Regions from separate parts of the Homo sapiens genome. Here region 2 is linked to region 1. The links come from fine-mapping of genetic effects on gene expression. A gene starts in region 1. The other region holds a variant in brackets. All regions are shown on one strand. Distances are between the middles of the regions.

Region 1 (4,334 bases):
GACAGGCGTGAGCCACCGCACCCAGCCAGGATGGACTATATTTTATTCATCAGTTGATGAACGTTTTAGTTGTTTCTAAGTAGAAAACTTTACAAGTGCAAAAATTCAGCATTTACTCATGGGCAAAACACAATGCCAGGCATGTGTGACAAAGACACAAACACACATAAAAGATAACGACCTAGCCCATGTGCGATGGCTCATGCCTGTAATCCCAGCACTTTGGGAGGCCAAAGCGGGCAGATCACCTGAGGTCAGCAGTTCAAGACCAGCCTGGCCAAGATAGTGAAACTCCATCTCTACTAAAAATACAAAAATTAAATGGGTGTGGTGGCACGTGTCTGTAGTCCCAGCTACTCAGGAGGCTGAGGCAGGAGAACCACTTGAAACTGGGAGGCAGAGGTAGCAGCGAGCAGAGATTGTGCCACTGCACTCCAGCCTAGGCAACAGAGCAAGACTCAGTCTCAAAAAAAAAATAAAATAAAGAACCTACTTCTCCCAGGAACTCACATCTTATCATGTAACACCTGGACATATCCTTACCTGTGAAGATGATGATACTCAGGCCTCATCTATAAGATGGGCTTTCTTTCATCAACATCTGAATAGTAACTCAAGTGTGCCTGAACCAGGTCACCAAGATCCTGACTTTCGAAGTCTCCTGAGGAAGGACATGTCGGCCTCCAAGTACTGGAGACAGCATTCCTGTGTAGACAGTTGCCAGCAACCCGTCTCCCACAGAACCTGGTGCAAGACCAAACCCAGCCTTCTCTGCATTTCCCTCTAGCCTAGCAAAGACACAGGTAGCTCACTCACTCTCAGTATTTCCGCGGTGATGATAAACTCCGTCTGTTTACCCTCTGCAGACCTGGGATTTGGCCTCGGTGTTCCCAGTCCCAACAGAATCTTAAACTTCTCCTTCAAGCCTGAATCTTTGCTTGTTGGTTTGGCCATGGTGGACCAGGACGCACCAGAAAACCCCTCTGTGCAAACGAAACAGGAATGGGGACATCTGAGCAACACCTCTGCCCACCTTCCCCACTGCGGACCTCCAGCCGTCAGGACCCTGGGTCTCTGGTGGGCATAACCTTTCCTCCCACACTCCCTGGGAGAACTCAACTACAGCCCAGCTGACCAGCTCGCAAACAGGCACCTAGGAAAGCCCGGGAGACACCAGGCCTGGTCTAGAGAGCTCTCTACTCAGACGCTGCCGCCCGCCCCGCCCGACTCAGTGCACGGGTTAGGACTGCCGCCGCGAAGTCCTGGGAGCCCCGACGTTTGCCGTCTCTCCTCTACCCATGTGAAGCAGGAGCTGTCACGGAGCCGCCTGCAGCAGAGACCCGTTCGCACCCGCCATGACTTAAAACTAAGGGATGCTCGGAGCTCCGGAGTCGGGTTGCAGTGGGCGCGGGTGAGGGCCCGGGACCCGGACACTGCGGGGTCCGCCTCTCTAGGCCGCTGCCCCGTGGGGACCGCCACTTGCCCCGTGGGGACCGCCACTTACCCCGCGCCGCGCCACCGCGCTCCGGGCCGCCCCGACGCGGAGAAAGGCGCACCCCCCTGGCCCCGGGACGCCGCCGGAAGCGCGACCCGCACTTCCGGTAGCGGCATTGCGCGGAGGGCCGCCTTGGGAGCTTGCTGGGAGTTGTAGTTCTGTGCCGCCCTCTGGCGGAAAGGCCGGCGATCCTTGCATCACGTGACGGGGCCGCATGGGCCGCCGGGATGTGTAGTCCGCAGGAGTCCGGCATGACCGCCTTGAGCGCGAGGATGCTGACCCGGAGCCGGAGCCTGGGACCCGGGGCTGGGCCGCGGGGGTGTAGGGAGGAGCCCGGGCCTCTCCGGAGAAGAGAGGCTGCAGCAGGTAGCGCCGCGCCGTGGCTGGAGCGTGGGAGGAGGCGGGATAGGGGCTGCAGGCTGGAGTCCCGGGCCGCCTCCTGCGGCTCCCAGCTGCGCGGGCAGGGGCTGCAAACCCGGCAGCCGCGAACGGTTCCCACGTGCGGCCCTGCGTTCCCACCTTGCGCCTTTTTCCCAAAGATTGCGGTCCGCAGGGGCTGGGTTTCGGGCGCTCCGCTCCGCTGCCCCCTTTCGCCCCAAGCAAGAAAACGCTTCCTTTCCCACCACTCTGTCCGGGACTCTCCACTCCAGGCTCTGTGGGTCCCATCCCCGCCCTCCTGCAGTGAACTTGCTGTCCTCGGAGAGGCTGGGTGCCAAGGACACACGCAGCCAGAAGCCTGCTCCCCCAGCTCGGGGGAGGGTGCCTCTGAGGGAAAACAGGAAAGGGCATGGCACTTATTATATTTATCCTGCAGCCGTTGAGGACCTGCTGGGGGCCAAGCACTGCAGTGAGCAGTGAGGGACACGGACAGGGCCTCTGCGCTAGTCCCGCTGGGACTTCTGCAGAATTGGCCAGAGCTGGATTCCCATAGGCACCCAGGGACCCCAGGGGTAGTCCAGACTATGTCAGGAGGAACTGGTGCAGCTGGGAGCAGGCAGGTGGTGATGCCAGCCAGGGTGGCAGGAGCTTTGATGCCAGGATAGAGTTTGGAGTTTATTATGACAGTAAACGGAAGTCAATTAGGAGGTTTTGTTGTTTGTTTTGAGATCGGGTCTTGCTCTGTCACCCAGGCTGTAGTGGAGTGTTGTGATCTCAGCTCACTGCAACCTCCGCCCCCCAGGTTCAAGCAGTTCTCCTGCCTCAGCCTCCCAAGTAGCTGAGACTATAGGCCCCTGCCACCACACCCGGCTAACTTTTGTATTTTTAGTAGAGATGGGGTTTTGCCATATTGGCCAGGCTGGTCTTGAACTCCTGACCTCAAGTGATCCACCCACCTCGGCCTCCCAAAGTGCTGGGATTACAGGCTTGATCCACCGCGCCCGGCCGGCCAGGATTTTTTAAAAGGGAGTGACACAACCTGATGTGGGTGTTAGCAGACTGTCTCTGGTGCAGTATAGAAGATGTATTGGGGGCACCTTGGTACAGGCTGTTGCTAGAGTCCTCATGAGCTAACATGGACCTTGTCAGGGTCGCTGGCATAAGGAGGGCCCACATACCCCAGACTGCAGAGGGCAGAGCACCCCAAGTGTATTAGATGATGGACAGTTGTGGCATGAACGAGTGAGGGGTGAGCTAGCAGGCGGGATGGCACCCCTACCCTACCTTCACCTGTGGCCCCACCAGAGGGACTGCGTGGTGCTTTTTGCAGAAGCGAGGAAAAGCCACAGCCCCGTGAAGCGTCCGCGGAAAGCACAGAGACTGCGTGTGGCCTATGAGGGCTCGGACAGTGAGAAAGGTGAGGGGGCTGAGCCCCTCAAGGTGCCAGTCTGGGAGCCCCAGGACTGGCAGCAACAGCTGGTCAACATCCGTGCCATGAGGAACAAAAAGGATGCACCTGTGGACCATCTGGGGACTGAGCACTGCTATGACTCCAGTGCCCCCCCAAAGGTAGGCAGGGGCCCCATCTGCCCAGATGACCCCCCATCTTAGCAAGGTCCTTGTTTTCTTTCTACCCGGTGGCTTTTGGCTGGCACCCTCCCCTGCAGACAGCACCTTGGGAGGATGGACACCCGGTGCCCCAGAGCATCGCCTGCATCACTGTAGCCACTCAGCAGGTCAGGACACCAGTGGTTTAGGGCCTCGTGCTCGAACTTCTGCCCAGTGCAGGCGTGACCTGGGCTTTGTGTGATATCAGGAAGGAAGAGTTCCTTTTGCTTCACGGTCCCAGGGCCTGAAACCCTTAGACCAAGCTGAGTTCTAATCCCTATTCTGCTACCAGGTGGCTTGGATACAGGCCTCTCTGAGCCTCAGTTTGCTTGTCTGTAAAATGGGTAGTATGGGCCAGGCATGGTGGTTCAGGCCTGTAATCCCAGCACTTCGGGAGGCCAAGGCGGGTGGATCACCTGAGGTCAGGAGTTCGAGACCAGCCTGGCCAATGTGGCGAAACCACGTCTCTACTAAAAATACAAAAATTAGCCAGGTGTGGTGGCAGGCACCTGTAACCCCAGCTACTTAGGAGGGCGAGGCAGGAAAATCGCTTGAACCCCGGAGGCGGAGGTTGCAGTGAGCCAAGATGGCACCACCACACTTCAGCCTGGGTGAAAGAGTGATACTGCATCTCAAAAAAAAAAATTTGTTTTAAAGGGTAGTGTGATGATTCACGAAGCAATCATAATAGTAGTGGCCAATGGCTGTTCAGTAGTGATGGGCCAGATACGATCGTGTTGGGTTTTTTTTTGAGACCAAGTCTTGCTCTTGTTGCCCAGGCTGGAGTGCAGTGGTGAAATCTTAGCTCACTGCAACCTTCGCCTCCGAGGTTCAAATTATTCTCCTGCCTCGG
Region 2 (4,328 bases), 51 kb before region 1:
CTCCCTGCCTTCTAGGCGACGCAGCCCTTTTGCGCTTCCGGCGCCTGCTGGTGGCTGAGCTGCAGCGTGGCTTCTTTGACAAGCACATCTGGCTCTCCATATGGGACCGGCCGCCTCGTAGCCGTTTCACTCGCATCCAGAGGGCCACCTGCTGCGTTCTCCTCATCTGCCTCTTCCTGGGCGCCAACGCCGTGTGGTACGGGGCTGTTGGCGACTCTGCCTACAGGTGGGTGCCGTAGGGGTCGGGGCAGCCTCTTCCTGCCCAGCCCTTCCTGCCCCTCAGCCTCACCTGTGTGGCCTCCTCTCCTCCACACAGCACGGGGCATGTGTCCAGGCTGAGCCCGCTGAGCGTCGACACAGTCGCTGTTGGCCTGGTGTCCAGCGTGGTTGTCTATCCCGTCTACCTGGCCATCCTTTTTCTCTTCCGGATGTCCCGGAGCAAGGTGGGCTGGGGCTGGGGACCCGGGAGTACTGGGAATGGAGCCTGGGCCTCGGCACCATGCCTAGGGCCGCCACTTTCCAGTGCTGCAGCCAGAGGGAAAGGCGTCCACCAAAGGCTGCTCGGGAAGGGTCAACACACTTGAGCAGCCTTAGCTAGACTGACCAGGGAGAAAGAGAGAAGACTCAGAAGCCAGAATGGTGAAAGAACGAGGGCACTTTGCTAAGCAGACGCCACGGACGACTGCACAGCAGCACGCCAGATAACTCAGAAGAAGCAAGCACGCGGCTGTGCACGCTTCCGAAATGCACTCCAGAAGAAAATCTCAGTACATCTATAGGAAGTGAAGAGGCTGAGTTAGTCCCTTAGAAACGTCCCAGTGGCCGGGCCGGGTGTGGTGGCTCACGCCTGTAATCCCAACACTTCAGGTGGCCGAGGTGGGCGGATCTGAGTCCAGGAGTTTGAGACCAGCCTGGGCAACATAGCAAGACCCCATCTATATAAAACATTAAAAAGGGCCAGGCGCGGTGGCTCACGCCTGTAATCCCAGCACTTTGGGAGGCCGAGGCGGGCAGATCACTTGAGGTCAGGAGTTCGAGACCAGCCTGGCCAACACAATGAAACCCCGACTCTACTACAAATACAAAAACTTAGCTGGGCATGGTGGCGGGCGCCTGTAGTCCCAGCTACTCGAGAGGCTGAGGCAGGAGAATGGCATGAACCCAGGAGGCGGAGCTTGCAGTGAGCCGAGATTGCGCCACTGCACTCCATCCTGGGCAACGGAGCAAGACTCCATCTCCAAAAAAAAAAAAAAAAAATCCCACAAAGAAAAGCTCAGGCTCAGAGCCTTCACGATAGAATTTTTCTAAGCAGTTAAGGAAGAATTAACACCAATCCTTCACAGACTCTTTCCAAGAATACAGCAGGTGGGAACGCTTCCCATTCATACGGAAACGGGAGGCCGCACCCCTTAGGAATGCACACGTGGGGTCCTCAAGAGGTTACATGCAAACTAACCCCAGCAGCACACAGAGAAGGCGCATAAGCCGCGACCAGGAGGGGTTGCTCCCGAGTCCGTGGCAGGAACCAGAGGCCACATGTGGCTGCTCGT[A/G]TTTAAGTTAATTAAAATGGAACGATGGCCGGGTGTGGTGGCTCACACCTGTAATCCCAGCACTTTGGGAGGCGGAGGCGGGCAGATCACTTGAGGTCAGGAGTTCCAAGACCAGCCTGGCCAACACAGTGAAACCCCGTCTCTACTAAAAATACAAAAAATTAGCTGGGCATGGTGGCAGGCACCTGTAATCCCAGCTACTCAGGAGGCTGAGCCAGGACAATCGCCTGAACGCGGGAGGTGGAGGTTGCAGTGAGCTGAGATTGCGCCATTGCACTCCAGCCTGGGTGACAGCGAGACTCCATCTAAAAAAGAAAATATGAAATTTAAAACTCTGTTCCTTAGCTGCACCAGTCTGCTGTCAAGTGTTCAGTGGCACACGTCGCGAGGGGCTGCCATCACGGACGGTGCAGATGTCCCATATATCCAGCATTCTAGGACATTCTGTCAGATGGCACCGGGCTCTGTCCTGTCTGCTGAGGAGGTGGCTTCTCATCCCTGTCCTGAGCAGGTCTGAGCTGCCGCCCGCTGACCACTGCCCTCGTCCTGCAGGTGGCTGGGAGCCCGAGCCCCACACCTGCCGGGCAGCAGGTGCTGGACATCGACAGCTGCCTGGACTCGTCCGTGCTGGACAGCTCCTTCCTCACGTTCTCAGGCCTCCACGCTGAGGTGAGGACTCTACTGGGGGTCCTGGGCTGGGCTGGGGGTCCTGCCGCCTTGGCGCAGCTTGGACTCAAGACACTGTGCACCTCTCAGCAGGCCTTTGTTGGACAGATGAAGAGTGACTTGTTTCTGGATGATTCTAAGAGGTGGGTTCCCTAGAGAAACCTCGAGCCCTGGTGCAGGTCACTGTGTCTGGGGTGCCGGGGGTGTGCGGGCTGCGTGTCCTTGCTGGGTGTCTGTGGCTCCATGTGGTCACACCACCCGGGAGCAGGTTTGCTCGGAAGCCCAGGGTGTCCGTGCGTGACTGGACGGGGGTGGGCTGTGTGTGTGACACATCCCCTGGTACCTTGCTGACCCGCGCCACCTGCAGTCTGGTGTGCTGGCCCTCCGGCGAGGGAACGCTCAGTTGGCCGGACCTGCTCAGTGACCCGTCCATTGTGGGTAGCAATCTGCGGCAGCTGGCACGGGGCCAGGCGGGCCATGGGCTGGGCCCAGAGGAGGACGGCTTCTCCCTGGCCAGCCCCTACTCGCCTGCCAAATCCTTCTCAGCATCAGGTGAGCTGGGGTGAGAGGAGGGGGCTCTGAAGCTCACCCTTGCAGCTGGGCCCACCCTATGCCTCCTGTACCTCTAGATGAAGACCTGATCCAGCAGGTCCTTGCCGAGGGGGTCAGCAGCCCAGCCCCTACCCAAGACACCCACATGGAAACGGACCTGCTCAGCAGCCTGTGAGTGTCCGGCTCTCGGGGGAGGGGGGATTGCCAGAGGAGGGGCCGGGACTCAGGCCAGGCAGCCGTGGTTCCCGCCTGGGGTAGGGTGGGGTGGGGTGCCAGGGCAGGGCTGTGGCTGCACCACTTCACTTCTCTGAACCTCTGTTGTCTGTGGAAAGAGCCTCATGGGATCCCCAGGGCCCCAGAACCTTCCCTCTAGGGAGGGAGCAGGCTCATGGGGCTTTGTAGGAGCAGAAAGGCTCCTGTGTGAGGCTGGCCGGGGCCACGTTTTTATCTTGGTCTCAGAGCAGTGAGAAATTATGGGCGGGTTTTTAAATACCCCATTTTTGGCCGGGCGCGGTGGCTCACACGTGTAATCCCAGCACTTTGGGAGGCCGAGGTGGGCAGATGACCTGAGGTCAGCAGTTCGAGACCAGCCTGGCCAACATGGCGAAACCCCGTCTCTACTAAAAATACAAAAAATTAGCCGGGCATGCTGGCAGGCGCCTGTAGTCCCAGTTACTCGGGAGACTGAGGTAGGAGAATCGATTGAACCTGGTAGGTGAAGGTTGTAGTGAGCCGAGATCGCGCCACTGCACTCCAGCCTGGGCAACAAGAGCGAAACTCCGTCTCAAAAACAAAAAAATTCCTCAATTTCTTGGTTGTTTTGTAACTTATCAACAAATGGTCATATAGAGGTTACCTTGTATGTAGTCACGCACATAGTCACGCACATGGCAGCCGGCGGCGGAGCGCACCCACGGCGTGTTCCCACGCGTGTGACCCCGGGCTCTGCCATGCCCTCCTATGCTCAGGTGTGCTGAGGTCCACACGGCCCTGCCGTTGCACTGCAGCTGCCTGCAGGATTCAGTGCAGTGGCATGCAGTGCAGGTGCGGTGCCCCGGAGCCACAGGCCACACCACAGGGCCTGCATGCACAGGGGCTGCGGTGTCTGGGTTTGGGTAACTACGCCCTGTGACATTTGCACAGCAACAGAATTACCTAATGACGCATTTCTCAGAACACATCCCTGGCACTAAGTGGTGCGTGACTGCTGCTTTTGCATCCACATCTAGTTTGATTTGTGTGTTATTCCTTTGAGTGCTTCTCATTGTTAAGCAACCAAGAACTAAAGAGGTATGAACTGCCCCTGGACTCAAACAAAAAGGAAAACTTCCTGATTTACAAAAGGCAGATAACCATCACATGAGGGCATCTTTATGAATAAATTGCTGGTTGGTTTTAAAAATACAGAGTATGGGGAAATCCAGGGGTAGTCACTACATGCTGACCAGCCCCAGGTATCTCCGGCCCAAAGCTCTGTGAAATCCAGATTCAGTGCTTCCGCGGGGATTTCTGACGGCAGCTCAGACTCCGCATCCACACAGAGCGCGTGGCCCTCACCCT

What was found. PIP is the estimated chance that this variant, and not a neighbour inherited with it, causes the effect.
Region 2: its variant is the best candidate, but not a certain one, in a credible set for the expression of NTHL1 in whole blood (INTERVAL, PIP 0.61).

What each region holds. Positions count from the first base shown.
Region 1 is chr16:2,045,236-2,049,569 of GRCh38, reverse strand. NTHL1 (nth like DNA glycosylase 1) reads left to right here and starts at 1,736. Exons shown (of 6, transcript NM_002528.7): 1 at 1,736-1,861; 2 at 3,204-3,442. The coding sequence starts at 1,747. TSC2 (TSC complex subunit 2) reads right to left here and starts at 1,585. Exons shown (of 42, transcript NM_000548.5): 1 at 1,505-1,585; 2 at 817-983. The coding sequence starts at 954. RefSeq lists a silencer at 1,322-1,551 and enhancers at 1,642-1,731, 2,182-2,241, 1,833-2,332.
Region 2 is chr16:2,095,759-2,100,086 of GRCh38, reverse strand. PKD1 (polycystin 1, transient receptor potential channel interacting) reads left to right here. Exons shown (of 46, transcript NM_001009944.3): 29 at 16-226; 30 at 317-443; 31 at 2,103-2,219; 32 at 2,307-2,359; 33 at 2,584-2,768; 34 at 2,846-2,939. Among named protein-coding and RNA genes, the nearest start is that of PKD1-AS1, 6.5 kb to the right of the region's middle. The variant A/G (reference allele first, on the strand shown) is at 1,551.